4 linked regions of the Homo sapiens genome follow. The protein of the gene in region 3 interacts with the protein of the main gene of each other region in a pairwise test. Each region holds a gene or a part of one and is shown on either strand. Other genes may lie near its edges.

Region 1 (9,433 bases), on a different chromosome or scaffold from region 3:
TCTGAAGTTGACAAGACAGCATCTTGAATTCAGTCACATGGATGGTATGTGAGGCTTGTTACTGCATTTGCCAGGAACATGTTGATGAAGCCATTGTCAGTGAACATAGATAAGAGTCTCCTTAGATACAGGCTCACATGGGGGAGAAAAGCATTTTAAACGATGACAGAAAAATGTTTTCCTGTTACTGATAACTTAAATATCTCATTCACTTTTGGTTTTAGAACATAGCCAAACTGAAGTTTAAGTTACAGGCTCATGCATATATCTGTTCTTTTGCTCTCGCTCTTTACCTTTTACTCTTATTTTAATTCCTGATAGCTCTGATTGTTTTTTCTTATTTATGTTTGACCTCCATTTTTTATTATATGCCAGAATTTATTTAAAATCATTTAAATCATTTGTAGGATGAGGTGAAGTACTGTATAATAAATGAATGAATATGTGGATTAGTGTAATATTTACTAGGCTTTCAAAAATCGTTGCTAGAGTGGAGTATTTTAGCTTAAAAACACAAAAGATATTTTCAGTGTTAACTACTATCTTATGAAAAAGGAGAATATAGATTTCTGTTGTTTCAAAGGACAGAAATAAGGCTAGTATGTGGAAATTACTAGGAGATAGATTCCAACTCATTGTGATGAACATTTTTTTGAGTTAGTCTTAAAAGGGCAATAATAGGCTGCCCTGCAAAGCATTAGGTTTTCTATCACTGTTACCATATTTGAACAGAAGCTGATAGCCCACTGGTGAGGATGATCCTCCATTGAGTGGGAGGCTGGACCAGATGAAATCTAAAGCTTTCTGTACTTTTGAGATTTTAATTAAATACATATCATTGTCATCAATGATAATGGGATTCTATAAGAACATTTTTTTTTTTTTTAGTAATCAGCATTAGTAATCATAATAATGGCACTAATGGCCATCATAACCTAGTGTGGGACTTTACAGTTGCTTTTATCTAGGGCCTTATAAAAAGATATTTGTATAAGTATTTCTTCTCACCCCAATTTTAATGATAAGAAAATTAGAATGTTTCAATGTGAAATAACATACAAGGGTAATGAAATTGCCTACGCTGACCCTAAGTCAGCAAAAATTAAAGAGGCCACTAGTTAAACCACTAGCAGTGATTTACTAGCAAATGTTGACCTTGTTATGGCAGAGCCTTAGAAGGTCTGGGATGGATGGCCAGAAAAGTTTCAGCCAAGTAAGAGCTAGCTAAGATATCATGGATATTGAATTTGAACTTCCAGTGTTTAACAAAATGTCATGCTGCAGAGCTTTAGGAATCCAGTAAATACTGAAGTCCAGAATTCCTTGTAAGAGGAGAGAGGATCCTCAGGAACTCTCTCTCTCCTTCCCACTTCATCTGTGCCTTACTCGTTCAGACCAGCTACTTTCAATGACAAGGCACATTACTATAGCAATCACTTAGAGACCCATGGGAAGAATGTTCTAGGCCAGTAATTCTCAACCTTGATCCTACTGACATTGGGGACTAGATAATTCTTTGTTGTGGGAGACTGTCTTGTCCATTGTAGGATGTTTAGCAGCATCCCTGCCCGCAACTGTGACAACCAAAAATGTTTCCAACCATTGCCAAATGTCCATGGGAGAGAAAACCACCCCCAGTTTAGAACTAGTCTTCCAGACATAGAGAATAGAGAATGCAAAGCCTTGAACAGCATGAGATGTTGTTGCGGAAGCAGGAACAGATCATTCAGGGGTCTATAGGCCTTGGCAAGAATTTTGGATTTTATTCTATGTGAATGAAAAGTCATTGAACAATTTAAGTTGGGGAGTAACATGTCAATATTTTTAAAAGACTAATTGGCTGCTGTGTGGGAAATAGATTTAAAACCATGAGGATAAATGACATCTCAGGATCAGGCACTAAGGCACATCAACATTTAAAGCAGATTGAAAAGTACAAGAGAAAAGGAGGCTGAGAAAGAGAAGCCCATGAGGCAGGATGAAAGCCATAAAGGAATGATGTCACAAGAATTGAGATGAAGATGTCAAGGAGGGAGTGGTCAATTGTGACTAGATTTTTCTGGTTGACTCATCCCTGAGTCACAGCCTAGAGATTTCTCTTCTTGCCTAGCTATAGTTTCCCCTACAGTTCTTCTGTACCTTATTCCAAATGAATCATTCTGCCCCAGAACTTACAAAGGCTTCCCATTGTAGTCCTGTACTGGCCTTGTTCAATCCTGTTTCTAAAACTTTGCTCTTTTAAGTTACATATCTTCCTCAATGCCTTCAAATACACTTGCTTATAATCCTTCCAAGCTGAAGTTCATATTTGATCTCCCACAGAAGCCCTCTCCAACTTTAGCCCACACAGATGACTCTATTCAAAAAAATCAACAAAACTTCCAATTTTTACTCCATCCAATAAACACTGCTTGTTAAGCATCTGTGCTAGGCACTGTGCTATGCCTTGGAAACATGAAAAAACAGAGAGCTTAGGTAGTAAGGAAATTCACTTGTCAGTCCTTATGGATGCATTTAGGAAAAAAAGGATTCTGTCTAGTATCTAACCCTGAGTCAGTCATTGATCTACTACTTCCCTATGCTATATTTCACTCTACCCCACCCAGCTCAGTCATGGTTAAGCTGTTGATTACCTCCTGGAACTACTGGGTTACAGCTCCGCAGGACACAATGTTGCTATTCCTACCAGACATTAGTGGCAGGGTGCATCTAGCCACAGGGTAGCACATTTCTCAAAGTCTGAGTTATAATCAATCCAGAATAACACTAAGAGGTGTGTATATGTGCTGGTGGTGTGAACTTTGGCTAAGCCTCAGCTGAATGATCTAGGGTATTCTTTGGCATGCCAAGCCTGCTCCCTTTCATGATCTCTTTGCCTGTGTGAGGTGCAGAGATTGGTCTTCACAAATTTGGGTCCAGCCAATCAGAAACTAGGGAATCAAACCCACACACGTCCCTCAAGGACAAATAGTAAGAATTAAAATATTTTAAATCCTTGTTGTGACTTTCCCAATTACAAATTTTCTGGGAGCAACAGCTGTCCTGCAATGTCAATTTTCCATTTTTTCATGTTTGCTTCAGACTCTGCCCTCTTGATGCTTAAATTGGGTCCTATTACAACTCTACCATTTAAGGATCGGTACATAGATATGCTAAAAACTGGTAGAAAGTATGAAATTATATAATTTTAAAAGTGTATAGTCAGGGTTTAGTCAAATTCTTGAGCAGGGTGAACTGAAGGGTATTCTTCTGTAATTGCTAAATAAGGAAGGGAGGTAGTATAAGCCATTATTATCCACAGTTCAAATTATTTCTCAAGGGTGGAGGTGGGGGTTACTCTGTCAGGTACATTTGCAGAGAAATAAATATAGTACAACATAATTGTTATAAAAATAAGTCCCAAAAGGGATGACAATTTTGTCTCAGAAAGTTATGAAAAGATCCATGGAGATAAGCATTCGAGAGAGAACCAAAGGATCTTGAGAGAACCAAGAACATAGAAAGCAAGGACTTTAGAAAGATTAATGTGGAGGAACTGGAGGAAGAATGGCGATGAGTTTAACAGTGTGATCATGAAAGGCCCTGCCGGTGGGTAATGAAAAATTCTTAGCAGAGAAGTATAATGATCGTATTTTCACGTTAGAAAAATTATTAATAGAATGGAGGTTGGACTGGTGTGGGAAATAACTAGAGGATATCTTGTGAATATTGCAATAGTACAAGGAAGATGAGTCATAAGAGATGGTGATTACTTGAAGGACTAAGACAGTGAGAGTGGAGGGGTGGACCTGAGAGATACTTAAGGAAATAAGAGTCAAAATTTGATATTAGAAAAGAGGAAATGAAGGAAAAGTAACAGGGGTACTCATAGATTTCTGACTTGGGCAGTTGCGTGTCATTTTCTGAAACAGGGAATGGAAATGGTGTAGGTTCCAGATGGGTGAAGAGGGACATGGCATCAGGAACAGATTATAGTAAAGATGTCCATGTCAATTTGGGACATATTTAAGATACTGTGTGAAATCCAAAGGATGTTGCTTAAAAATGTCCGACGTATAGATATACACCTGAGAGTTCTTGGTGCACAGGACACGTGGTAGGTAAATCCATGATGGGAAAGAGACTGCTCAAGGAGACATGGATTAACATTAAACAGAAACAGCAAAAGAAAATGGAGTGCTGGCGAACAGAGACCACGCAGCGGAAAAACAGTATTTAAAGTGCACCAGAAAAGTAGCTGCAGAATGAGGAGAAAATGACATTAGAGAAACGGAGGGAAGAGTTAATGGTGTGCTCTTATTGTTTTAAAAATGCAGAGTAGGATCTTTTTTTCCCCCACCCCTCCCAAAGTTTTTAATATTTTGAGGGCAGAAACCACGGCTTTATTTCATCCTATTTCTGACAGTGCCTAGTTCAGTAAAGGGAACATAGTAAATGCTCAATAAATTCTTAATGATTCAGCCTCAGACATTACAAACGGGTCCTATTTGTCTCCTGTATCAACGACCAATATTTCTTCCCCCTCTTTCTTCAAATAAACTTTTAGAAGTGCCTCTGGGTTTACTGAAATCCATTTTTACAATTAGTATGTTCAACTTACACCAGCTTTGGAATGAGTTCCAAAACCTTCTTTATTTACTTGAGAGATATTCGGTATCAGTGACGATGGGTTTTTCCTTTACTACTATTCCTAAGAAAGGTTTATTCAAAATCAAAGTTTAGCCCAATTCCCAGCAGTACCTTTTAACTTAAAACCTGTTCGAAAGCACGGCAAAGAGGCGGACAGACTTTTCTGACAATCATTAACCAGGTCAACAGACTTATTAAAGCTATCTAATTAAAGGCAAGAAACAACTGCTTGGGGAATACACATTCACGCCACAGGAAGCCATTTAACTGCAAATAGATCGTCTAACGACTCACGGAAATCTAAAGGAAACTGCGTGTCCGCATGGGGTTCTGATGCCAAACTACGGATTGTTCTCTCAGGTAACACCTAACCTAAGTGAAGTCCTTGGTGGATCCGCGTTCTTGAGCTTAGAAAATACCGAATGAACTACCAAGAGCACCAGAATAATCGCCTCCTCCTGAAGAACTAGCCTCTTTCTCACCACACCAGACAGCACGTCCTACAACCACCTTTCCCCCAACAACCAAACTCCAGCGCCAAGCTGCCGCTTTTGCAGAAATGTTCTATCTCTTGGTCTCGCGCGATCTCGCGCCTCCGAGGAAGCCAACTGTATCGCGCACGCCATCAAATCCCCGCGGGAATAGAATTCCGCAGGTCCAGAAAGCCGGGAAATCGCGAGCGGAGGCGGAGTTACCTCGGTGAGCGTGAAGGCGGAGCCCGCTCCGAGGGGCGGGCTCGAGGCGGGGAGAGGGGCGGGGCTCCAGGGACCTGTTGATCGCAGGTGTCACTGGCCTGACTGGTCCCTGGGTATTGGGGCGTATGCGCATGCTCCGCTCACAGGGTCGGGCTCTGGGCGGCGGAGACCAGCCGCCTGTGCTCCAGTTCCCGGTGAGCCTCGGTACTGTGGCAGCAGTCAGTGTGTCTGGCGGGTGTCGGCGTGAAGCGGGGCTGGGCCAGCGGGAGGTAGCTCTGTGGGAGTGGAAGGCCTGTATTTCTCTACCTGGACCGCACGCTCCTCGCGCAAGGAGGGTAGAGCTCAAGGTAAGTCTCCGAAACTAGCCCTCTGGTTGGAGATCCAGAGACCTGCGACCCCCGCGGGCCTGACCGGGACACTCTCATTCTAGCCCCAGAGCTCGTCTCTCCCCTCGCAGCCCGGCGACCTCCTATGGCCCCGGCCCTCTGGGCACACACACACTCTCTTTGCTGGGCGGTTCAGACGCCAGAGGTCACGCAGCCCTTTCGCCCCTTCTCGCCGCGTCTGGCGGAGATGCCTCTGGCCAGGCTGGAGGCGCTCGCGAGGCGGGAGGAGGTGCTGTACTTGTTGGGTCCTGGATGTTATTGCTGCCGTGTTTGAGGGCGGCGACAAGCTGGAGTCCTGCTGGGATTGTGAGTAATACCCTTACTTGGCTCCTGCCCCTGGCTGTCCAAGCCACATTGCCTCGCCTGAGCACACAGTTTTTTACTTAAAGGGGTCCAGGATGGTTATGCTCCCTCCTTGGAGAAGAGAGATGACTGGACTCGTGAGATTCTTGGGGTGGTGGTTTCTCAGTGGTAGTGGTGATGTATATAAAGTTAATGTTTAGCTTCTAAAGGGCGGCTTACGGGGCATTTACCAAACTATTTTTAAACAGTGTTGGAGAACAGGAAGTACTTGCACAGGTGTAATAGGGAGGGTTTCTAAAACCTGCAATCTGAGGATGTTTTGAGGTTTGTAACCCTGCTACAAGGTTTTCTTTATCAATGCAAAGTATGCAGGGAATTACCAGTTGGACAGCAAAGTTTTCCGAAAGTTTCCTTATCTGGAAATAGATATATATATATATATATATGTGTGTGTGTGTATGTATGTATGTATAAATATATATATTTGCAAAGAATATCTAAGGCTATTTTTGAGGTAGGTTTAATAGTAAACTTAACCTGTAGTCCCAGCTACTCGGGAGGCTGAGGCAGGAGAATTGCTTGAACCGGAGGTTGCAGTGAGCCGAGATCGCGCCACTGCATTCCAGCAGGGGCGACAGAGCCAGACTCCGTCTCCAAAAAACAAACAAACAAACAAAAAAACGCAGTACACTTAGGAAGGTTTTTGTGATTAAGATCTGATTCACTTTTAGTTATTAAAAGAAAAGGCTTGCTGATTTTCACTATTTAAAATGAGTAGCAAGTGCTAACACAAAATGTCTGTTGGAAATGAACTTTTAGTTACATTGATAATTGTTATTTTCTGTTCTTTTCAGTTCCGTGATGATGGTCTAAGCAAAGACCCTTCGTCCTGTTAAAGATAAATTAAAAAAAAAAAAAAAAAACCAAAGGGAACAAAACTTACTCTGCAAAAGTAATATATGATTTACCTGCTGTTGTCATAAGAATTCCAAATAGACAAACTCGGTGTAAGTAGGAGTTAATTATAGTCTGAGAAATAAGGTTTTTGTTTTGTATCTCAAAGGCTTTTAAAATAAGCTCCTTGATACAATTTGTGCAGGTTCGTGTTTACTGGTGATAAACCATGAAAGTGATTTATTAAGATTTTTTCATTAATGAAACTGGGAGGTTTGTGTATTTCTTCCTAACGTGTAAAAAAGAGACTAAGAACTGGCCTTTCCTTTTTCCTAAGAATTTTAACAAATATTTTTAAAAATGTATGTAGATTGTGTAAGTTCATGGAATTTGATACTAATAATCAATTCGTTAATATTTTCACTAAACAATGCATAAGATAGTTTTAAAAAAGATATTTTAATGGGAAGGTAGACTTTTCCAACTAGTGTATTCTTTTCCTTAAAAAAAAAAAAAAGAAAAATCACAATACTCTTAAGACCTGCCATATGTGCTGTGATTCAAGTTCTTTTATATTGTTTAATGTTAGATGTTTATTTTAAACTGTGCAGTATCAAGAAATACAACTTTGGTACCATATGGTTTACAAGTTTGTTTTAGCAAGACAAAGTTTAAAAATGAAAATTTTATCTCATTTAAGGTTATATGTAGCTTTAAAAGCCAAAATCAGAATTATTTTCCCTCCTGGAATTGTTTGGAACTCTCTTACTTACTGGGGTAGGAGGGGGTACATTGCTTTACCCTACAACTTTCCGAAAACACAGTTGATCTTTATAAAGTGATGGAATAAACTATCCTACAAAGATGTTTGGTTACTAAAATACTTAGAAGATCCTTTTTGACAGCTTTAACTGTAAGGTATTTCTTGTAGAACTCAAAAACAACCTGTAGAAAGTTGGGTAGTTTATATATTGCATCTGGAAGCATTTTTAACACAGTGTGCTAGGTGTGCTAGGGCCAAAATGATTGCCAGTTTCGCTTACTCTGCTCATGAGCTCTTGTTTTAAGGAGGGAAGTATGCTGATTTATGTTATCTTTGCAGAGCTAGGTAGAAATTAATGATGTTACAAATATAGTATTATTATATTGTTAATTTTATACTGATGATTTTAGAAAATTTTGCATTATGGTATTTGCACATGATAGGAACAAGAAACGGATGCAACCTGCTCTACTACAAGTAAAAATCCTCAAAGGTTAAATTTTAAATAGCTTTATGTAATATTGTAATCTTTGCAGGTTATACATTTTTTAAAATTAATAATAAGAATACCATAGATACCATGTACAGTATATAGAATATTTAGGCAAATAATATTCTGTGCTCTTCCAGGTTAACTCATATCCTCTATCAGGAATTGTTGAACCAAAAGCCCATGATTAGAACTGTGGTCTGTGGTTAGAATTGAGTTTTAATATAATTGGTTTTCTTTGTGATCTTAGTATTTTTTTTTCTTTTTCTTTTTTTTATGCTATGAATTTTATTTTGTTCATTTACAAACATTATTCATAGGGGGCTTCATTAGGCCACCAAAGATGTCCATGATACAAGAAAAGGCTACAAACCATTGCATCTGGCTAAAGAATTATGATTTTACATGAGACTTCAGAAGAGTTGCTTCATATACTCTGCAGTTCATCAGAATTTTTTCTGCAAAATAAACCTTATTCCAATATCTTAGCTATTTTTATGAACAAAATCAGTTATTTGAGGTGTCATGGTATTTTTGAATTAATTTGAAGATAACATTAGTTTTCAATTTTACACATATTACAAAAAAGAAGTTTTAAGAAATACCCTTCCTTTGGAAGTTTTTTACTGCTGCGCTTTTCTGAGTTAGAAGTATTGAATAAACATTATTGACCTCCTATTGTATGCTAGGCATAGTGCTAAACACTAGAAAGTCAAAAGTTAATTAGACAATGTTGGCTGGGTGCTGTGGCTCACGCCTGTAATCCTAGCACTTTGGGAGGCTGAGGCAGGCGGATCACTTGAGGCCAGGAGATTGAGACCACCCTGGCCAACATGGTGAAACCCTATCTGTACTAAAAAATACAAAAATTAGCCAGGCGTGGTGGTGCACACCTGTGGTCCCAGCTACTAAGGAGGCTGAGGCAGGAGAATCACTTGAACCCAAGAGGCGGAGGTTGCAGTTAGCTGAGATTGTGCCGTTGCTCTACATCCTGGGCGACCGAGTGAGACTCTGTCTAAAAAAAAAAAAAAATCATTAAGTAGTTATTTTTCTGAAAACTTATACTTTGGTTGAAAATTTCTAAATCAAGTCTCTGTTGCTGACACTTACTTCAGTCACTTTATCTTTCTTTCTGATCCATTGGCTGTTAACATTTTAACTCATTTTCTCCTTCTCTCCTTTCTAGTCCAGAAAGGTTTTGTAAATGAATATTTACAACAATTCTGTGGTGAAAATCCACTTATAATGTGAAGTATTCCCAAACATTCATTTT
Region 2 (8,589 bases), on a different chromosome or scaffold from region 3:
ACAGCAGTAGTTCCACAGCGACTCATTTAGCTACCTATATTTAGTTTTAACCACACCCAAGATATTCCTAGTTGTCTGAATTCTTGATTCAGATTTACTTAAAAATATGTAAGTATTTAATACTACTTTTTGAATCAGAATTGGGATATTGATCAAAGCGAGGAAAAAATGCCTCTTGTCAGGTAAAGTTAATGCATTTTCTTTTTTTGCATGTGTTATCAGAAGTTTTCAAAATTTCAGCTTAGAGACCTCTTCTAGGACCTAGATAATTATTTGGAAACTGCAAAACTGCACAAAATTTAAAAAAAATGAAAAGCTAAGAAGTTTTGTGTTGTGATTTGGGGTGGAGGAGTATTCATTTCAATCCTAATATAAGATTTGCTTATTTTTTATGAATATCTTGCTGTCTGTTACAGGAAGCTTATTAGATTTCCTTAAGGAAGGAGATGGAAAGTATTTGAAGCTTCCACAGCTGGTTGATATGGCTGCTCAGGTATCTGTATATATACATGTATCCATTTGAATTAAAAGTGTAAATTAAAATGTGGAATAATCTTACCAGAATATTATAGTATGTGTAGTGAAATGGTGGGATTTTATTTTTATTTTTTATTTTTTAGAGACAGCGTCTCATTCTGTCACCCAGGGTGGAATGCAGTGGTGCACTGATAGCTCCGTGCTTGAAGAGCCTTGAATTCTTGGGCTCTAGCAATCCTCTCGCCTCAGCCTCCTGGGTAGCTAGGACTGCAGGCACAGGCCACCATTCCCAGCTAATTTAAAAAATTATTTTTTTTGTAGACACAGGGATCTCTCTGTGTTGCTTAGGCTAGTCTCAAAGTCCTTGGCTCAAAGGATCCTCCCACCTCAGCCTCCCAAAGTATTGGGATTACCTGGCCAATAATGGAATTTTAGAACTGGCAGGAACGTCAGAGATAATCCAATGTGAGCTCTTAATGATACAGATTAATGAAGTATCAAAAGATGAGAGGTATCTAAAATTCACAAAACTTGTTAGTAACAGAACGAGTATTAGAACCAGCTATCTAACTCTTAGTCCAGTGGTGTCCTGTATCATACGGTTTCTTAGAAAATAGATGTTTCCAGGCCAGGTGCGGTGGCTCACGCTTGTAATCTGAGCACTTTGAGAGGCCGAGGTGGGTGGGTCACTTGAGGTCAGGAGTTCGAGACCAGCCTGGCCAACATGGTGAAACTCTGTCTCTACTAAAAATACTGAAAATTAGCCAGGCGTGGTGGCGGGCGCCTGTAATCCCAGCTACTCAGGAGGCTGAGGCAGGAGAATCGCTTGAACCCGGGAGGCGGAGGTTGGAGTGAGCCAAGATCTCGCCATTGCACTCCAGCCTGAGCAACAAGAGCGAGACTCCATCTCAAGAAAATAGATGTTTCCACAAATGTAAAGTCTATATGTATTTATATTTCAACAGATAATTTTAAGAAAATTAAAATGGATGAGGGCTGTTCCAAAGAAAATATTAGTAATCTAAAGTGTATGCTGAATTTTTTTTTTTTTTTTTTTTTTGAGATGGGAGTCTCGCTCTGTCACCCAGGCTGGAATGCAGTGGTGCAATCTCGGCTCACTGCAAGCTCCATCTCCCAGGTTCACACAATTCTCCCGCCTCAGCCTCCCGAGTAACTGGGACTACAGGCGCCCACCACCACCCCCAGCCAATCTTTTGTATTTTTAGTAGGGACGGGGTTTCACCGTGTTCGCCAGGATGGTCTTGATCTCCTGACCTCGTGATCTGCCCGCCTCGGCCTCCCAAAGTGCTGGGATTACAGGCGTGAGCCACTGCACCTGGCCTGAATTTGTTATTTACTATAGTCCAACACAAGAATTAAGATGGTATATATACAGTTTAAAATGGGACTTTTTTACTCTTCTGACTTTTTGTTTTAAATATATAGTGAAAACTGTTAAAAGTTTCTCTTCAGATATGTGGTAGGTATTTGAGAGGCCTTATTATTGGCTTTGGTTGACATGCTGGTTTTGGAATCTTACCTCCTAGCCTCCAAATGTCCACAGAATCTGACAATTCAGAAAAGCTTTATACTGAGAAACTATACATAGGCAACAGGCATATGCCACGCCAGTTCATGCTTCTGAGTTAGACACTCTATGGTAGGGGAGGTTGGCAATCCATTTTTGTTTTTTAAAAAAAAAAAAAAATTAGGTTTTGTGAGCCACATCCAATCTGTCATACTTTTTTCTTTTTACAACCCTTTAAAAATGTAAAAACCAGGCTGTGCGAGATGGCTCCTATAATCTCGCTTTGCGGGGCCTGGGCAACATAGTGAAACCCCATCTCTACAAAAAAATACAAACATTAGCTGGGTGTGGTGTCGCATGCCTAAGTCCCAGCTACTCACTAGGCTGAGGTGGGAAAATTGCTTGAGCCCAGAAGATAGAGATTGCAGTGAGCCACGATTGCACCACTGCACGCCAACCTGCGTGACAGAGTGAGACCCCGTCTCAGTCAATCAATCAAAATGTAAAAAACAGTTTTAGTTCTCTGGCTGTGCAAAAACAGGCTGCAGGCCACTTTTGGCCTACAAGCTGTAGTTTGGGAACCTATACCTTGTGGTTAATACCTTTATCACCATGTCATCTTAGGTTGTGCCTGATAGAGACCTTGATGAGCTTGTATCCAGAGGTACTAAATTACCTTGTGATTTACCTCTTCTCCTAACCACAGACACAAGAAGACATTAGGAGGGTTAATCTTGGTCTTCAGAGTAATGTTAGGTTTTATTTTTTTTGAGGCTGAGTCTCGCTCTGTTTCCCAGGCTGGAGTGCAGTGGCACAATCTTGGCTCACTGCAACCTTTGCCTCCTGGGTTCAAGTGATTTTCCTGCCTCAGCCTCCCAAGTAGCTGGGACTACAGGTATGTGCCACCACACCCAGCTAATGTTTGTATTTTTAATAGAGACAGGGTTTCACCGTGTTGGCCAGGCTGATCTCGAACTCATGACCTCAAATGATCCACCTGCCTCGGCCTCCCAAATTAATGGGATTATAGGTGTGGGCCACCGCACCCAGCCAGTGTTAGATTTTTGAAATCTGAATTTAGCCTGCATTTTTATTATGTTTTCTGGTTTTCCTGTTATCTTCTAGACTATACCCTGTTACCATCATCTCCTTCTAAAATAATATGATTTTCAGTGACACAATTTGATATTAACCATAATTGTCTTCTCTCTGCTTCCCTTTGTATCGTATGTCTTGTGTTTTTTGTTTTTCTCTTTCCAAGATTGCTGATGGTATGGCATATATTGAAAGAATGAACTATATTCACCGAGATCTTCGGGCTGCTAATATTCTTGTAGGAGAAAATCTTGTGTGCAAAATAGCAGACTTTGGTTTAGCAAGGTTAATTGAAGACAATGAATACACAGCAAGACAAGGTAAAATTACTTTTACATAAAAGCTTGTAATGTGTTGTGTGTTTTGCTTAACTCTCTTGACTATACAGGGTTTTCCAGAATAAGAATTGTTTTAGCTTCCCTCAGAAGAGTCATAGAGACATTGATTTCATTCATAAAATCATGTACTGCTGTGGCTTTCTGATAGTTATTTCCTCCAAGAAAGAACTTGACTAGGTATCCTTTGCATTATACATAGAGCAAGTAGTAGCCTCTTTACACTTCTTTTGACATGACAACAAATATATTTTAATTTCTTTCCTAGAAAGGCCAGAGGTTCTCAGTCAGAGGAGATATTGCCCTGTACCGCCACTCACCAGGGGACATCTGACAATGTCTACAGACTTTTTTGGTGGTTACAACCTGGGGGCTACTGCTTGACATCTAGTGGGTAGAGGCCAGGTATACTGCTGAACCTCCTACAGTGTACAGAAATGTGCAGGCAAACCCCCCCTTCCCCCCACAACAGAATTATCAGGCCCAAAATGGTAGCGGTGCTGAGATTGAGAAACCCTGCTTTAGACATAGTGCTTTCTTTCAACCTCCATACTTCTGTACAGTTACCTCCATCTGGAATGCCTTCCTATCTGTAATGTTTGTTGTTGTTGTTGTTTTTCGAGATAGGGTCTCCCTCTGTTGCTCAGGCTAGAGTATAGTGGCGTGATTTCAGCCCACTGCAGCCTTGACCTCCTGGGGCTCAGGTGATCCTCCCACCTCAGCCTCCTGAGTAGCTGGAACTACAGGTGCACACTACCACGCCTGACTAATTCTTTGTATTTTTTGTAGAGACGAAGTTTTGCCATGTTGCCCAAGCTGGTCTCGAACTTCTGGGCTCAAGCAGTCCTCCTGCCTTGGCTTCCCAAAGTGCTAAAATGGCAGGCGTGAGACACCATGCCCGGCCTGTAATCTTTACATGTGAAAATCCTAACCATTCTTTAGGGCCTAATTTAGCTGCCACTTTTTTTTTCAATAGTTTTTGGGAAACTAGTTCTTTAGTGGTGATTTCAGTGCACCCATCACCCAAGCATCTTGCACTGTACCCAATATGTAGGTTTTTTTGTTTGTTTTTTTGAGACGGAGTCTCACTCTGTTGCCCAGCCCAGGCTGGAGTGTAGCGGCACGATCTCGGCTCACTGCAACTTCCGCCTCCCAGATTCAAGCGATTCTCCTGCCCCAGCCTCCCGAGTAGCTGGGATTACAGGCTCGTACCACCACACCCAGCTAATTTTTGTATTTTCAGTAGAGACGGGGTTTCACCTCCAACATGTAGTCTTTTATCCACCCCCCAACCTTTCCCCCTTACTCCCCAAAGTCCATTATATTACTCTTATGCCTTTGTGTCCTCATAGCTTAGCCCCACTTTTAAGTGAGACCATACAATATTTGGTTTTCCATCCCTGAGTTACTTCACTTAGAATAATGGCCTCTAGCTCTAAGTTTCTGCAAAAGACATTATTTCATTCCTTTTTACGGCTGAGTAGTATACCATGGTGTATATATGCCACATTTTTTTTTATCCACTCATTGGTCAATGGTCATTTAGATTGGCTCCATATCTGCAATTGCGAATTGTGCTGCTATAAACATTTGTGGATGTATCTTTTTCATATAATGATTTTTTTTTTTTTGCTTTGAGACACAGTCTCAATCTGTTGCCCAGGCTGGAGTGCAGTGGTACAATCTCAGCTCACTGCAACCTCCACCTCCCAGGTTCAAATGATTCTCCTGCCTCAGCCTCCCCTGTAGCTGGGATTACAGGCACCTGCCACCAGGCCCGGCTAATTTTTGTATTTTAGTAGAGACACGGTTTCACCATGTTGGCCACGCTGGTCTCAAACTCCTGACCTCAGGTGATCCACACGCCTTGGCTTCCCAAAGCGCTGGGATTACAGGCGTGAGCCACCACACCTGGCTGATTTCATTTCCTTTGGGAAGATACCCAGTAGTGGGTTTGCTGGATTGAATGGTAGTTCTGCTTTTCGTTCTTTAAGGAGTTTCCATACTGTTTTCCATAGTGGTTGTACTAATTTACATTCCCACCATCAGTGGAAAAATGTTCCCTTTTCACCACATCCACACCAACATCTATTGTTTTTTTTTTTTACTTATTCATTATGGCCATTCTTACAGGAGTAAGGTAGTGTCTCACTGTAGTTTTAATTTGCATTTCCCTGATGATTAGTGATGTTGTATGTTGTAGTTGCTCCTGGTTTTTTTTGTTTTGTTTTGTTTTTGAGATGGAGTCTCACTCTGTCACCCAGGCTGGAGTGCAGTGGCGCGATCTTGGCTCACTGCAAGCTCTGCCTCCCGGGTTCTCGCCATTCTGCCTAAGCCTCCCGAGTAGCTGGGACTACAGGTGCCTGCCACCAAGCTCGGCTAATTTTTTTTTTTGTATTTTTAGTAGTGACGGGGTTTTACCGTATTAGCCAGGATGGTCTCAATCTCCTGACCTCATGATCCGCCCACCTCGGCCTCCCAAAGTGCTGGGAATACAGGCGTGAGCCACCGCGCCTGGCCAAGTTTTGCTTTTTTGCCCAGACTGGAGTGAAGTGGCATGATCTTGGCTCACTGCAACCTCTGCCCCCCAGGTTCAAGCAATTCTCCTGCCTCAGCCTCCCGAGTAGCTGGGATTACAGGCATGCACCACCACACCTGGCTAAGTTTTGTATTTTTGGTACAGACAGGGTTTCACCGTGTTGGCCAGGCTGGTCTTGAACTCCTGACCTTAGGTGATCTGCCCACCTCGGCCTCTCAAATTGCTGGGATTATAGGCGTGAGCCACTGTGCCCAACCACCTGCCACTTTTTAAATAAAACATTTTGTAATGGTGCCAAGGAAAATTGATCATCTGTTTGTCTAAATATCTAAAGAACTCTGTTTTAAAACACTATCTACAAACACATATAAATAACTTAAAGAATGTAAGACACCTATAATATTATTTCTGCAATAAGTTTATAAACTTCATGAAAGCCATGCTTTTTTTTTTTTTTTTTTTTTTTTTTTTGAGACGGAGTCTCACTCTGTTGCCCAGGCTGGAGTGCAGTGGCGCAATCTCAGCTCACTGCAAGCTCCGCCTCCTGGGTTCACACCATTCTCCTGCCTCAGCCTCCCGAGTAGCTGGGACTACAGGCTCCTGCCACCTCGCCCAGCTAATTTTTTGTATTTTTGGTAGAGACGGGGTTTCACCATGTTAGCCAGGATGGTCTCAATCTCCTGACCTCATGATCCACTCACCTCGGCCTCCCAAAATGCTGGGATTACAGGCTTGAGCCACCGCGCCCGGCCGAAAGCCATGCTTTTTAGGTTTCCATAGTGATTAGCATAATGCCCTCCACAAAAAAGATATACAGTAAGTATTTGAGTTAATTAACATGGACTTTTAAAAGTAGTACAATAAAATTTTCCAGAATGATATAAAAAGTAGGAAAACCCATAAACATTATAACTCAATAGAATATTCACTCATCAACCAATAGTTAACTACAGCTATTAGGTGCCAGACTGTACTTAAAAGTTACACATATTATAACATGTATCTTTGGCTTACTAGAGCTTCAACCTCTATTTTCTTAAATTGTTTTCTGTTCCCACAGCCAACTTATTTTTTATATCATCAGCTGTCTAATCAGGAAGAAATGTGATTTATTTCAATATGAATTTTAAAAATTAAAGAATTTTTATCCCATGTATCTTGTACATTTAAAGAATTGACACTGATGACTACAGTAGAGATATTGACAGAACATTAGCCCTGCATATGCTATGTTTACACAAATAGATTTTTAAAAAACAATTAAGCAAGATGGTCAACATTATTTTAGGTGCAAAATTTCCAATCAAATGGACAGCTCCTGAAGCTGCACTGTATGGTCGGTTTACAATAAAGTCTGATGTCTGGTCATTTGGAATTCTGCAAACAGAACTAGTAACAAAGGGCCGAGTGCCATATCCAGGTAAGCTTGCATTTTATAGCTCTTGGTTATCTCATGAGTGGCTTTATCAGGAGTTTATTAGGAACAGAATTGTAAGCGGGGAAAAGGCCTTTATTTCTTCTCATAGTCCCCCTGCCTCTCCCTCTCCCCACTCCTTCCCTTTACTGTGGCATTGGATGGGTAACTGTGGCATTGGACGGGTAAGTCAGTGAAAGCCACGATCCTTGACAGGGTGAGCACATGAGATAGGCCCCACATTCACCTCAGCTTTCTCAGGACATTTTCCAAAGGGGCCTCTTACTGTTCTCTCAGATAATAAACATATCTTAAATATCCTGGCTCATCCACCCTATACCCTAAATAACTGTTCTTTCCCAGTAGTGTGATTGGTGTTTTGTTTTTTTTTTTTTTTTTTTTTTAAACACAGTCTTGCTCTGTCACCCAGGCTGGAGTGCAGTGGTACAGTCTGGCTCACTGCAACCTGTCTCCCGGGTTCAAGCAATTCTCCTGCCTCAGCCTCCCAAGTAGCTGGGATTACAGGCACCCACCACCACACCCAGCTAATTTTTTGTATTTTTAGTAGAGATGGGGTTTTGCCATGTTGGCTAAGCTGGTCTCGAACTCCTGACCTCAGGTGATCCACCTGCCTAGGCCTCCCAAAGTGCTGGGATTACAGGCGTGAGCCACCGTGCCCATCATGGTATATTTTTTTAAATATGTACTTGCCTTGTTTTCTTCAGTAGATTATTTTGAGATTCTTTTCTTGTTTTATTTCTCTAACCTATTTATAAACCAGCACTTTAATAAATATATCTGCCATTAATAAAGAGGAAAAATGAAAGTGTTTCCCTTTCAAAATTAAGAGACTTTTTTTTTTTTTTTTTTTTTGAAATGGAGTCTCGCTCTGTCGCCCAGGCTGGAGTGCAGTGGCACGATCTCAGCTCACTGCAGCCTCCACCTCCCAGCTTCACGCCATTCTCCTGCCTCAGCCTCCCGAGTAGCTAGGACTATAGGCACCCGCCACCACGCCCAGCTAATTTTTTGTATTTTTAGTAGAGACGGGGTTTCACCGTGTTAACCAGGATGGTCTCGATCTCCTGACCTTGTGATCTGCCCGCCTCGGCCTCCCAGAATGCTGGGATTACAGGCGTGAGCCACCGTGCCTGGCCTCAAAATTAAGAGATTTATATAGTTTCTAGGGGGAAGGAGAAATTTT
Region 3 (8,589 bases):
GAAGGAGAGGCAGCCACAAGCATAGGAGGAGGAGCCATTAGTGATGGCCTGAAAGCCCAGGGACAGAAGGGAGGGGACCTGGGCATTAAATGCTGGTCAGTGATAAAGAATGGTGGTTACTGGCTGGACATGGTGGCTCACGCCTGTAATCCTAGCACCTTGGGAGGCGGAGGCAGGTGGATTGCCTGAGCTCATGCGTTCGAGACCAGCCTGGCCAACACAGTGAAACCCTGTCTCTACTAAAATATAAAAAATTAGCCAGGCATGGTGGCGTGCGCCTATAGTCCCAGCTACTCGGGAGGCTGAGGCAGGAGAATGGCTTGAACCTGGGAGGCAGAGATTGCAGTGAGCCAAGATCGCACCACTGCACTCCAGCTTGGGTGACAGAGCAAGACTCCGTCTCAAAAAAAAAAAAAAAAAAAAAAAAAGAATGGTGGTTAAAGCAGTTTCACTAGAGAAGTACTTAGCTCATCTTGGAATTGAATTTTTTTTTTTTTTTTTTGAGACAGTGTCGCTCTGTCGCCCAGGCTGAAGTGCAGTGGCATGATCTCGGTTCACTGCAGTCTCCACCTCCCGGGTTCAAGTGATTCTCCTGCCTCAGTCTCCTGAGTAGCTGCGATTACAGGCGCCCACCACCATGCCCGGCTAATTTTTGTATTTTTAGTAGAGATGGGGTTTCACCATATTGGACCAGGCTGGTCTCAAACTCCTGACCTCAGGTGATCCAATTGCCTCGGCCCCCTAATGTGCTGGGATTACAGGCATGAGCCAGTCACCACGCCCAGCTGGAATTAAGTTTTCTACCTTTTTTTTTTTTTTTTTAACTGTGAAATATTTCATACATAGAAAAGAGTAAGGGTGCCGTGGCTCACGCCTGTAATCTCAGCACATTGGGAAGCCAAGACAGGTGGATCACTTGAGGTCAGGAGTTCGAGACCAGCCTGGCCAACGTGGTGAAACCCTGTCTCTACTAAAAAGACAAAAATTAGCCGGGCGTGGTGGTAGATGCCTGTAATCCCAGCTACTTGGGACGCTGAGGCAGGATAATTGTTTGAACCCGGGAGGTGGAGGTTGCAATGAGTTGAGATCGCACCATTGCACTCCAGTCTGGGTAACAGAGCAAGACTCTGTCTCAAAAAAAAAAAAAAAAAAAAAAAAGGAAAAAGAGTAAGCCTGGGCACGTTGGCTCATGTCTGTAATCCCAGCACTTTGGGAGGCCGAGGGAGGCAGATCACTTGAGGTCAGGAGTTTAAGACCAGCCTGGCCAGCATGTGAAACCCATCTCTGTTAAAAATACAAAATTAGCCCGGCAGTAGTGGGGCCCTGTAATCCCAGCTACTGGGGAGGCTTAGGCACAAGAATAGCTTGAACCCAGGAGGCAGAGGTTTTGGTGAGCTGAGATCACACCACTACACTCCAGCCTGGGCAATAGAGTGAGACTCTGTCTCAAAAAAAAAGTATATGTAAGCTGGGTGTGGTGGCATGCACCTGTAGTCCCAAATAGTGGGGAGGCTGAGGTAGGAGGATTGCTTGAGCCCAGGAGTTCAAGACCAGCCTGGGCAACATAAACCCCCATCTCTGCAAAAAATTAAACAAGGATTGGCTGGGCATGGTGGCTCATGCCTGTAGTCCCAGCTACATGGGAGGCTGAGGTGGGAGGATCACTTGAGCCTGGGAGGTCAAGGCTATAGTGAGCCATGATCGTACTGCTGCACTCCAGCCTGGGCCATAGAGCAAGACGCTATCTCAAAAAAATTTACAAAACAAGCCAAAAAAAACTATCATCTGTGTGCTCCCTTTAAAAAATAAATAAATAAAACATTGGCCAGGCGTGGTGGCCCAGACTGTAATCCCAGGACTTTGGGAGGCTGAGGTGGGAAGATTGCTTGAGCTCAGGAGTTCAAGACCAGCTTAGACAACATGGCAAGACCCTGTTTCTACCAAAAATACAAAAATTAATCGGATGTGGTGGCATGCACCTGTAGTCCCAGCTACACAGAAGGCTGAGGTGGGAGGATCGCTTGAGCCTTGGAGGTTGAGGCTGCAATGAGCCATGATTGTGCCTCTGCACTCTAGCTCGGGCAACAGAACGAGATCCCATCTCAAAAAAAAAAAAAAAAAAAAAAAAAGGAATATTACCAGCACCTTTGAAACTTCCTTTTTCTAGAAGTTGATTGTATTGGTTCTTAGCATGCATAAGGAGATTTTAAGCTTAGAACATATTAGCACTTGGTTTAAAGATGTTTTGTGTATGGTTTATACATGTAGAAACTGAGAACGCTTTTAACCAAAAGAGCTGAGAGATTCGTTATCATCAGAAAAGAAAAGTCAGTTACGAATTAGTTGTTAGGGGCTTTGCTGCTCAAAGTGTGTAGTGGACAATAGGCAAAAAGTGAGAAGCATGGTCAAGGGTGTTTGGATGGGCTTGAAAACCCTGTGCATTTTATTTTATTTTATTTTATTTATTTATTTTTGAGTCGGAGTCTCACTCTGTTACCCAGACTGGAGTGCAGTGGCGCGATCTCGGCTCACTGCAAGCTCTGCCTCCCGGGTTCACACCATTCTCCTGCCTCAGCCTCCCGAGTAGCTGGGACTACAGGCGCCTGCCACCACGCTCAGCTAATTTTTTTGTATTTTTAGTAGAGATGGGGTTTCACTGTGTTAGCCAGGATGGTCTCGATCTCCTGACCTCTTGATCCGCCCGCCTTGGCCTCCCAAAGTGCTGGGATTACAGGCGTGAGCCACTGCACCTGCCTTATCTATTTAATTTTTTGAGACGGAATCTCTGTCTGTCGCCCAGGCTGGAGTGCAGTGGCATGATCTCAGCTCACTGCAACCTCCGCCTCCCGGGTTCAAGCAATTCTCTTGCCTCAGCCTCCCAAGTAGCTGGGCCTACAGGCACACGCCACCACACCTGGCTAATTTTTGTATTTTAATAGTGACAGGGTTTTGTCATGTTGGCCAGGTTGGTCTCAAACTCCTGACCTCATGATCCACCTGCCTCGGCCTTCCAAAGTGCTAGGATTGCAGGCATGAGCCACTGCGCCTGGGCAACACTTTATATTTTAAAGGGAAGTTGGGGGAGGGTGCTATTTTCAACCTTGCTCAAAGAACAAATAATTGGGAAGCAATAAATTTTCTGATGAATATGCTTCATATTTCTTTAGACAGTGGGGTCTAATGGAAAGGCTAAGATATCTGACATGGAGCAACATGTATTTATCTCTTCAGTGGAACTAATGTGTAATTTTCAGGGGAGTTTGATGAATAAATGAGTTTGAGAATATAGGGCAGAGGACTTGGAATTTGTGTCAGGGTTATGGCTGGTGAGATTGATTTGGTGTCAAATTTATGAATATCTCTGCAGATACTAACACAGAAAATGAGCCCCAAGGTCACTATAGCAGTATAGTAGTGGAGGGAAATAGAAACTATCTTTATCAAATTTCTACACAGACATACCCCTCACCAGGGAAGCAAGGAAGTTGAAAAGCACACTTTGCCTCCCTAACCCAGGAATTTAGATGGGGGATCAGCAAACTGTTGAGTAAAGGGTCAGATTTTAAATATTTTCAGCTTTTCCATAGAGTCTCTGTCCAACTACTCAACTATGCCTTTGTAGTGAAAAACAGTCATAGACAATACGTAAATGAATGGGCTTGGCTATCTTCTTTTTTTTGTTTGTTTTTAAGATGGAGTCTTGCTCTGTCACCCAGGCTGGAGTGCAGTGGTGTGATCTCAGCTCATTGCAACCTCTGCCTCCCAGGTTCAAGCAATTCTCTTCCCTCGGCCTCCCAAGTAGCTGGGCCTACAGGCGCACGCCACCACACCTGGCTAACTTTTGTATTTTTAGTAGTGACAGGGTTTTTTGTCATGTTGGCCAGGTTGGTCTTGAACTCCTGACCTCAAGTGATCCTCCCGCCTCGGCCTCCCAGTGTTGGGATTACAGGCGTGAGCCACCACACGCCTGGCTTTTTTTTTTTTTTTTTTTTTTTTTTTTTGAGATAGAGTCTTAACTGTTTCAGGCAGTGACGTGATCTTGGCTCACTGCAAGCTCCGCCTCCCGGGTTTACACCATTCTCCTGCCTCAGCCTCCCGAGTGGCTGGGACTACAGGCGTGTGCCACCACACCTGGCTAATTTTTTGTATTTTTAGTAGAGAGACAGGGTTTCACCGTGTTAGCCAGGATGGTCTCAATCTCCTGACCTTGTGATCCGTCCACCTCAGCCTCCCAAAGTGCTGGGATTACAGGCGTGAGCCACCACACACTGGCTAACTGCTTTTAACTATACAAATAATAAAATACTCTTGGATGGAGTCTAAGGTGGAACTGACTGTGCTCTTAATAGTGTCTGAAATTTATATGGTACTTACTGGACTGTTCACAGGCTCTCTGTGGCTCTTGAAATAGCAGGGGCTGGGTGTGATGGCTCACACCTGTAATCCCAACACTTTGGGAGGCCAAGGCGAGAGAATTGCTTGAGGCTAGAAGTTCAAGACAAGCCCTGAAAACATAGTGAGACCCCCATCTCTACAGAAAATTTAAAAATTGGCTGTGTGTGATGGCAACTGCCTGTAGTCCCAGCTACTCAGGAGGCTGAAGTGGGAGGATCACTTGAGCTTGGGAAGTGGAGGCTACAGTGAGCTGTGGTTGTGCCACTCTGCACTCCAGCCAGGATGACAGCAAGACCCTGTCTCAAAAAAAAGAGAAAGAAATAGAAGCAGGGATATACTTGAAGGGGTATGTGTGTGTTCATGTCGGTACATTGGATGCTTGGTGCTGCTCGGTAATTTTGAATGCCTCACATGCATTATGCCATTAATTCTCATACACCTGACAGATGCAGGGTTCGTCCCTAAGGCTGATTAGCTCATTATGAGTGAAGAGTTTAGAACCAGACTCCCTGAGTGCAAGTCTAACCTCTTCTTTGGCTCCTCATTTGTAAAATGGGGATAATAACAGCATCTACCTCACAGACTATTAAATAATCCAATCTCTTCAAAGATCGTAAACCATGCCTAGCATAGATAATAAGTATGAGCTCTTTATTATTACTCTTGCTCCTACTACTCTTGCTAGCTATTTATTTTTATTTTTATTTTATTTTATTTTATTTTTTTGAGACGGAGTCTCGCTCTGTCACCCAGGCTGGAGTGCAGTGGTGCAATCTTGGCTCACTGCAAGCTCCGCCTCCCGGGCTCACACCGTTCTCCTGCCTCAGCCTCCTGAGTAAGTGGGACTACAGGCACCCACCACCATGCCCGGCTAATTTTTTGTATTTTTAGTAGAGACGGGGTTTCACCGTGTTAGCCAGGATGGTCTCGATCTCCTGACCTCATGATCCGCCCACCTCAGCCTCCCAAAGTGCTGGGATTACAGGCATGAGCCACTGCGCCGGCCTCTTATTTATTTATGTTTTGAGACAGTCTTGTTCTGTTGCCCAGGCTGGAGTGTAATGATGCAGTCATAGCTCACTGCAGCTTCTAACTCCTGGGCTCAAGTAATGCTCCTGCCTCAGCCTCTTGAGTATCTGGGACCGCAGGTGTGTGCCACTATGCCCGGCTCATTTTTTGTCTGTTTAGTAGAGACAGGGTTTTGATATGTTGGACAGGCAGGTCTCCAAGTCATCTGCCTGCCTTGGCCTCCCAAGGTGCTGGGATTACAGGTCTGAGCCACCACGCCTGGTGGATTTATTATTTTTAATTTGGCAAGTCTGTAAGCCCTTTTTTGTTCCTTTTTTTTCAAGAGGCCAGAGGCAGAGGCCTTTGTCATTTTCTGTGTGTCCAGGGAAGTGTGCAGGATGTAAGCCATAGATTAGGACTGGGAGGAAGAGTGTGTGGTGGTTGTGACAAGGGTCCAAAGGAAGGCAGCTTCCGAACTTACTTGAGATTATAAAAATAAATTTAAACCAGGTATCTCTGTGTAATCAAAAGGTTTCTGTAAAACAGAGATGGAGTGTATGTGTGTGTGTATACTTGTAATTTGAAAAGACATTCAGAATAGTAACTTTTGGGACAGTACAGACTACAAAAATTACAACATGATAGAACCTTCTTAACTACTAAGAATATAGAAAGGAAAATAAAGCCAGGCGTGGTGGCTCACACCTGTAATGACAGCACTTTGGGAGGCTGAGGCGGGTGGATCACATGAGGCCAGCAGGAGTTTGAGACCAGCCTGGCCAACATGCCAAAATCCTGTCTCTACTAAAAATACAAAATTTAGCTGGGTATGGTGTTGCACATCTGTAATCTCAGCTACTCGGGAGGCTGAGGCAGAAAAATCACTTGAACACGGGAGGTAGAGGTTACAGTGAACTGAAATTGCGCTACTGCACTCCAGCCTGGGTGACAGAGCAAGATTCTGTCTCCAAAAAAAAGGCTGGGCTCAGTGGCTCACACCTGTAATCCCAGCACTTTGGGAGGCCGAGGCAGGCAGATCACGAGGTCAGGAGATCAAGACCATCCTGGCTAACAAGGTGAAATTCCGTCTCTACTAAAAATAGAAAAAATTAGCGGGGCGTGGTGGCATGTGCCTGTAGTCCCAGCTACTCAGGAGGCTGAGGCAGGAGAATTGCTTGAACTTGGGATGCAGAGGTTGCAGTGAGCTGAGATCCTGCCACTGCACTCCAGCCTGGGCAACAGAACAAGACTCCATCTCCAAAAAAAATGTAGAGGCCGGGCATGGTGGCTCATGCTTGTAATCCCAGCACGTTGGGAGGCCGAGGTGCGTGGATCGCCCGAGGTCAGGAGTTCAAGACCAGCCTGGCCAACATGGTGAAACCCCTTCTCTACTAAAAATAAAAAAAGTTACCTGGGCGTGGTAGTGGGCGCCTGTAATCCCAGCTACTCAGGAGGCTGAGGCAGGAGCATCACTTGAACCTGGGAGGCAGAGTTTGCAGTGAGCTAAGATCACGCTATTGCACTCCAGCCTGGGCGACAAGAGCAAAACTTGTCTCATAAAAAAGGAAAATAATTTATTATAGAGGAGAGTGGTATATTAAGAAGTTTGACAGGCACTGGCTTAGAGTAAGATTTTTCTCTTAGAGTAATTTTCTTTCTCTCTTAAGGTATCCAAGCCCACCAATGGGATCTGTCTCAGCACCCAACCTGCCTACAGCAGAAGATAACCTGGAATATGTACGGACTCTGTATGATTTTCCTGGGAATGATGCCGAAGACCTGCCCTTTAAAAAGGGTGAGATCCTAGTGATAATAGAGAAGCCTGAAGAACAGTGGTGGAGTGCCCGGAACAAGGATGGCCGGGTTGGGATGATTCCTGTCCCTTATGTCGAAAAGCTTGTGAGATCCTCACCACACGGAAAGCATGGAAATAGGAATTCCAACAGTTATGGGATCCCAGAACCTGCTCATGCATACGCTCAACCTCAGACCACAACTCCTCTACCTGCAGTTTCCGGTTCTCCTGGGGCAGCAATCACCCCTTTGCCATCCACACAGAATGGACCTGTCTTTGCGAAAGCAATCCAGAAAAGAGTACCCTGTGCTTATGACAAGACTGCCTTGGCATTAGAGGTAAAATCTGTTCAGATTAGCTTTTTGGGTCCTTTGACATTTGGTTTTAATTTTTAGTTTTAGTTTAGTTTCTGCTCATTTAAGCTTATATTCATGGAATTAGAGCACTGGATGATTTTGGAAGATACGCACTGTTAGCGTTTCATTTTAAAATTTTTTTATAGAGACGAGGTCTCTAATTTTAAAAGAGTTGTTTGCCCAGGCTGATTTCGAGGTCCTGGCCTCAAGCAATCCTCCTACCTCGACCTCCCAAAGTACTGGGATTACAGATGTGAGCCACCATGCCTGGCCCATTATTAGTGTTTCACAGCTTGTTTTGTTCTGTCCTATTCCTTGTTTGCCCCAAATTCTCAGCCTTCTTGCTCTTTCTTGTTCCCAAAGCCTAACAGATTTAGTTTTGCAGTTGTTGGTTTTTCTTCCAGTAAGGAAAGATAATGATTAAGGAAGACCCATGACCTAGAGGCAAAATCAACATATATGGTTCTGTATTTCTAACATTGGAATCAGTTGAGAAATATGAAAATGTCTTAGAATTTCTCTTGAGCTTGGTAGAGGAATGAATTTTTTTTTTTTTTTTTTTTTTTTTTGAGATGGAGTCTCACTCTGTCGCCCAGGCTGGAGTTCAGTGGCTCAATCTCCGCTCACTGCAAGCTCCACCTCCTGGGTTCACACCATTCTCCTACCTCAGCCTCCCAAGTAGCTGGAACGACAGGCACCCGCCACCACGCCTGGCTAATTTTTTTGTATTTTCAGTAGAGACAGGGTTTCACCGTATTAGCCAGGATGGTGTCGATCTCCTGACCTCGTGATCTGCCTATCTTGGCCTCCTAAAGTGCTGGGATTACAGGTGTGAGCCACCGTGCCCGGCCCAGGAATGATTTTTTTTGAGATGGAGTCTTACTTTGTCACCCAGGCTCCAGCACAGTGGCATGATCTTGCCTCATGGCAACGTCTGCCTCCTGGGTTCAAATGATTATCCTGCCTCAGCCTCCTTAGTAGCTGGGATTACAGATGCCTGCCACCATGCCCGTCGAATTTTTGTATTTTTAGTAT
Region 4 (5,042 bases), on a different chromosome or scaffold from region 3:
ATGGATCCCTGTGGTGCCAGGCAGGAATGGGCTGCTTGGGGACTCAGCGAGCTCCCAGGGCCTTTCTGCTGCTTCCTCCACCCCTGTATTTTGCTCAGCTCTCTAACTTGACTCAGCTTGAGGTAAAGTCAGAAACTTCTCCCGCAAGCAAAACTTCAGCTGCTCCAGTGGGACTGCGCATTCGGTAGAGGAGGGTCTCCCTGTACCACTTCCGCATTTGGGGCAACTCACAATATTTGGGGTGTCTCCCCGGTCCTGCAGGAGAAGTCCACTTCCATCAGAGGGTCTGTGGGTCCTCTCAGGATCTGGAGCTAAAATTCACAATGCAAGCTGCTGCATGCTGCTCTGTCCTGAGCTGCAATCTAGTCTTGCCTCTCATATGCCATGATCTTCTGAATCCCTCCTTGGAGGTTTAACTCCAAAGAAGTATGCTTCCAGCTGCAGGCTACTTGAATTTGGATAAGGAGTTATATTGGAATAGGGTGCTATATTCTGATTATTAACAACATAATCAATTTTCATTATCCGTGAGCTCAAAATAAGGTGAGTTGTACCATTTTTTTAAATTCCTAAAGTCACTTGCTTCAGTATGCTTCAGAACACAAAACCCACATTCTCTCACACTTACCACATTGTATTTCTTCCAATCCTATTTTGAAGACCATGATTCCTGGGCAATGTGGAGCAGAGACTAGAAAACTGCATGTAATGTGCAAAGCCAGTGATTCACGTGCAGATGCTCAAGAACTTATGTATCAATCCTATCTGAAGACTTCAGCTCAACATCAATTTATTTCTGCACACCCTTTGGCCTAGCAATTTCATTTGTAGAAATCCATTCTACAAAACACATTTTTGTATGCAAATATGTATGTTGCAAAAATGTTCATGAAATCATTTTAATAGCAAAGAACTGGAAACTATAAATCCATTTTACAAGACCATGATTGCATAAATTATGGTACATTTACATAATGGGATCCAATGGAGCTAATACCTCTGTATACTTTTCACAGAGATCGCTAAAACAGCATTAAAAAAAAAACAGAACTGTGGACTGTGTTATGGGTAATGATTTGGCAATGTAGGTTCATCAGCTGTAGCAAAGGTGGAGAATGTTAGTGATGGAGATGCTATGTTGGTGTGGGGGCAGGGCACACAGGGGAAATCTCTGTACCTTCTACTCAATTTTACTGCAAATCTAAAACTGCTTTAATAAATAGTTTTAAAAAGGAAAGAAAAAAGAACATTACAAAGGATTACATAAAGTGAGAACCCATTTAGGTAGATATGAAGCAAACGTAGAGATGTGTGTATGGGAATATATATACACAGATGCATACAAAGGGAACTGGAAGTTTAAAAGACACACCAAGTGGTGCAGCTCTGCCTCTTGGAAACAGGACAGGGACAGGGAAGAAGACACGGTGAAAAAAATAATTTAACATTTTACTTCCTACACTTTTACGACAGTTGAATGTTGTACAGAGTTACTGCAGTCCTGTATTCCTTATGCAGGGGAAGAAAACACCACAGGATAAAGATGAACAATCAAAAAAATGATGAGACCAAAGATGAGCCAAGTGCCAATCATCTTTAAGTCAAATACTGTGTCGTGGAACAATCTAGCTCATATAATGTCTTAAACCTTAGATATTCTATTGGTTCATCAAAAGCCTAATAAAGGCCAGGCGTGGTGGTTCACACCTGTAATCCCAGCACTTTGGGAGGCCGAGGCAGGCAGATCATCTAAGGTCAGGAGTTCGAGACCAGCCCGGCCAACATGATGAAACCCCCATCTCTACTAAAAATACAAAAATTAGCCAGGCATGGTGGCAGGCGCCTATAATCCCAGCTACTTGGGAGGCTGAGGCAGGAGAATTGCTTGAACTCGGGAGGCAGAAGTTGCAGTGAACTGAGATCACGCCACTGCACTCCAGCCTGGATGACAAGAGCAAAACTCCGTCTCAGGAAAAAAAAAAAAAAGGCCTAATATAGAGTCCTACAAATGTTGCTAAGAAAGTAAATAGAACAGGATTGCTTTAATTCTTATGATTAAACTAAAAACAAAAATGCTGAAACCTTAGTATAACTTTAAATTATATATCATTTATTGAAATATAAAGATCTTCATTTACACGTTTTAAAACAAAAACATGAACAGGGGCATTCGTAATACATTTTGTATTGGTAGACCCTATCAAGTTAGTTTTTCTCACACATTCACCACACCATTGTTTTGGGAACATGTAAGTATCTTTCTTTTTATTATTTCTAAAATATAAATTTTGGACATTCAAAAGTGCAACAGTTAATGTGCCTGTGGGGATTATCACAGTTAAAAAAATATAAACGAAGGCAGTGATACAGCTTGTCATAAATGTTTTGGCAGTATTCTCCAAGTCTATATAGAAATACATATATACATATTGATGTATAACATCATTTTATCTTATGTCCCTCTTCACAAAAATAGGACCATTTTGTACAGATTGGCAGACCACATTTTAAGGACATCACTAATCGTTTAAAAAGTCACAAATAGTGTTTCTCAGGCCGGCTTTGATTGTCATCATAAAAATAGAAAGTAGGAAAGATTGGCAAATTTTCTTCTGGAGACTTTGCAGGAGGCCAAAAGGAAACAAATCTGGAATTTGCTGAAAACACACACACACACACAAATGCAGTCATATACAAATTCAGGTGGGAGCATTTGTTAGGACTGGAAACTGCTGGACTGAGAAGTTTCATCCGGCCTCATGATGTCATGCAAGGCTCACAGCAATATCAAAATGCAAAGCACCAACAAAATAAGGCTGTACAAGGGAGAGTGAGCGATAAACAGAATGCTTGAGCTGTGATTCTAGAAACACAAACGTATTTCAAGTCTAATTGGCTCTACAGAACCTAGTCAGGTTTTCGTTTTTAATTGGCCAATCTGGCTCAGTCTTCGCACTTACTATGAAAAAGTTGGATAAGAAAGTTGGGGCTTGCATTGAGATTACACCAGTAGGTAGTCAAGTACTTTATTATTGCTTCTGCATCTTCCAAAGCATCATCTGCCGATAGCACAGTGATTGCAGTAATCACAGCCCATGTTTCATTCATATGGTATCAGCAATTAAGCAGTATTGCAAAGAATGCCAATGAACCCACACCAACCTGTTTGACAGTGTGGATAGATGTGACAATTCATCCTCCCATCTAACCTCAAATTATCAGTAAAACTTAAAATGTTTTTTCCACCAAAACACTGAGCTGGTTACACAGAGACTTGGAACACTGAATTGCATAATTTTTGTACATGCCTTTCCTTGGCGGGGTATGGAGTGGGAGGCAGAAGACGGGAGACGGGGAAAGTTCAATCTCCCCCATACAGTGGGAAGTAGCATCTTTACTTTTGGAAAACCTGTCAAAACCAAACTTTAGCTTTCTCAGCCTCAGCTAAGACTGGAAAGTTAAATTAAGGTCGCAATTGCTAGCTAGATGGCATTAAATGTCACTAACCTGAAGCCAAGGATTTAAATAGTAGGCTTCCTGCGTGGTTGAATGCCAACCCTGTTCCAAAGTTCAAATTATTTGTTTCCCATGGCAACTTCCTGAAACCTAAGTCAGTGTTTCCGAAAACTGGCCGATCAGAACAGCCAGGGAGTTTAGAAAAATACAGACTCTGGTTTCCCTCAGACTTCATACTTCAGAATCTCAAGGATGGAAACCCAGGATCTAGTCATCCTGGCTGCCACACACATTTGAGAACTGAGGATCCAGGCTAATGCACATCCAGCCTCCACTAAAGAATATCTTTATGGTCTCGAGTTTCAAACTCTTTCTCTTTGGGGTAAGGGGTGAAAGAAGGAGGCTGATGTCTGGGCATCCTTCTGACCCTTTTCAGGTTCATAGATTCAAAAAATACATATATTGGGGTCGCCAAAGCTTTCATCAGGCATGAAGAAAAAAAAAAAAAAAACTTCTGCAAATCCAGTCTTTTTGCTGATCATTATATTTTCCATTGGGTAATATACATGAGAAGTTATGTTCAGCACAGGTTTATGCCTCTACATTGAGAACTTTTAGGACTTAAGAGTTTTGTTTGTTTCTAATCCCATTATTTCAGAGGGCAGTTAATTGTTTTTTAATACGATGGATTGGGGAACCTATTCAGTACAGTTAAAAATTCTGACTTCCTGGACAACACTACTTTTACTTTGTTCTCTATGCTCAACTAAATTTAATTCACTAAAGCTATTACCATACTTTATAGAGAAACATGTTATTTAATATAAATGTCAAAAACTGTCAAACTCATCACCTACTTAGTAAGGATTGTTTTAAATTGTGCTTTCTCTGGAGGGAAATCATGTTACATTATTACACATTTAGCATTACTGATAACAGTAGTAGTATTATAAACATAGATTACAATATGAAAATGAGTTGTCAGGCTTCTAAATGACCCAAATCTATTAAACAAGGTTGGTTAATTATTATTCTTTATCTCTTTAACACTAAAAAAGATAGCAAAATGCTATAGTACCAGTACCTTTTAAGGTTCAAAAATGGTTTTTCATGCACTTCTTTAAAAAGTTCAACAGCAGCTGACATCAGGTTTCAAGAGGGAAGTACATGGATGGATTGAGTGGTCTCTTCAGAAGTCCAAAGAAGATAGTTAATACAATCTAAACACAGCCTTGGTTAGAGTTATTTACATAATTACAATGCTGAAGTTCTGTCGCAGTATAAATTGTGTCTGTTGGACTCTCACCAATGTCCTTGAAGCACAAAGTTCACCTTCTGTGGCCTATTATTCCCTTATCCATCTATCTCCAAACTTCACACACCACTGAGATGCTACTGAGGCATTGCAAGAGGCAACACTGACAAAGTTCATTTCAAAATATCCCATTCATTCATATTTAGAACGCTCCCCGAGGCCCTTGGCTGGGAACTTCTCTTTAAACATCAACCAAGTCCTCCTCTCAACCTCTGCATTGCAATAAAGTGGTTTTCTGAACGGGATCCAGAGGTGGCCCCAGAAGTGGAAG

Evidence for each region.
Region 1: the proteins of CRKL (region 3) and USP53 interact in binary tests that used the Homo sapiens proteins (3 or more experiments, as listed by UniProt).
Region 2: the proteins of CRKL (region 3) and YES1 interact in binary tests that used the Homo sapiens proteins (3 or more experiments, as listed by UniProt).
Region 4: the proteins of CRKL (region 3) and PDGFRA interact in binary tests that used the Homo sapiens proteins (3 or more experiments, as listed by UniProt).

The regions. Positions count from the first base shown.
Region 1 is NC_000004.12:119,207,203-119,216,635, forward strand, and holds the start of USP53 (ubiquitin carboxyl-terminal hydrolase 53), read left to right. Parts: upstream 1-5,510; 5' UTR 5,511-5,671; exon of another isoform or gene 5,672-6,016; intron 6,017-6,031; exon of another isoform or gene 6,032-6,337; intron 6,338-6,867; 5' UTR 6,868-7,020; intron 7,021-9,433. UniProt on the Homo sapiens protein: Deubiquitinase that mediates 'Lys-63'-linked deubiquitination of tight junction proteins, such as MARVELD2 and LSR, and which is involved in the survival of auditory hair cells and hearing.
Region 2 is NC_000018.10:731,639-740,227, reverse strand, and holds part of YES1 (tyrosine-protein kinase Yes), read left to right. Parts: intron 1-416; coding exon 417-493; intron 494-3,266; coding exon 3,267-3,420; intron 3,421-7,262; coding exon 7,263-7,394; intron 7,395-8,589. UniProt on the Homo sapiens protein: Non-receptor protein tyrosine kinase that is involved in the regulation of cell growth and survival, apoptosis, cell-cell adhesion, cytoskeleton remodeling, and differentiation.
Region 3 is NC_000022.11:20,926,709-20,935,297, forward strand, and holds part of CRKL (crk-like protein), read left to right. Parts: intron 1-7,070; coding exon 7,071-7,536; intron 7,537-8,589. UniProt on the Homo sapiens protein: May mediate the transduction of intracellular signals.
Region 4 is NC_000004.12:54,295,293-54,300,334, reverse strand, and holds the end of PDGFRA (platelet-derived growth factor receptor alpha isoform 1 precursor), read right to left. Parts: 3' UTR 2,090-5,042; downstream 1-2,089. UniProt on the Homo sapiens protein: Tyrosine-protein kinase that acts as a cell-surface receptor for PDGFA, PDGFB and PDGFC and plays an essential role in the regulation of embryonic development, cell proliferation, survival and chemotaxis.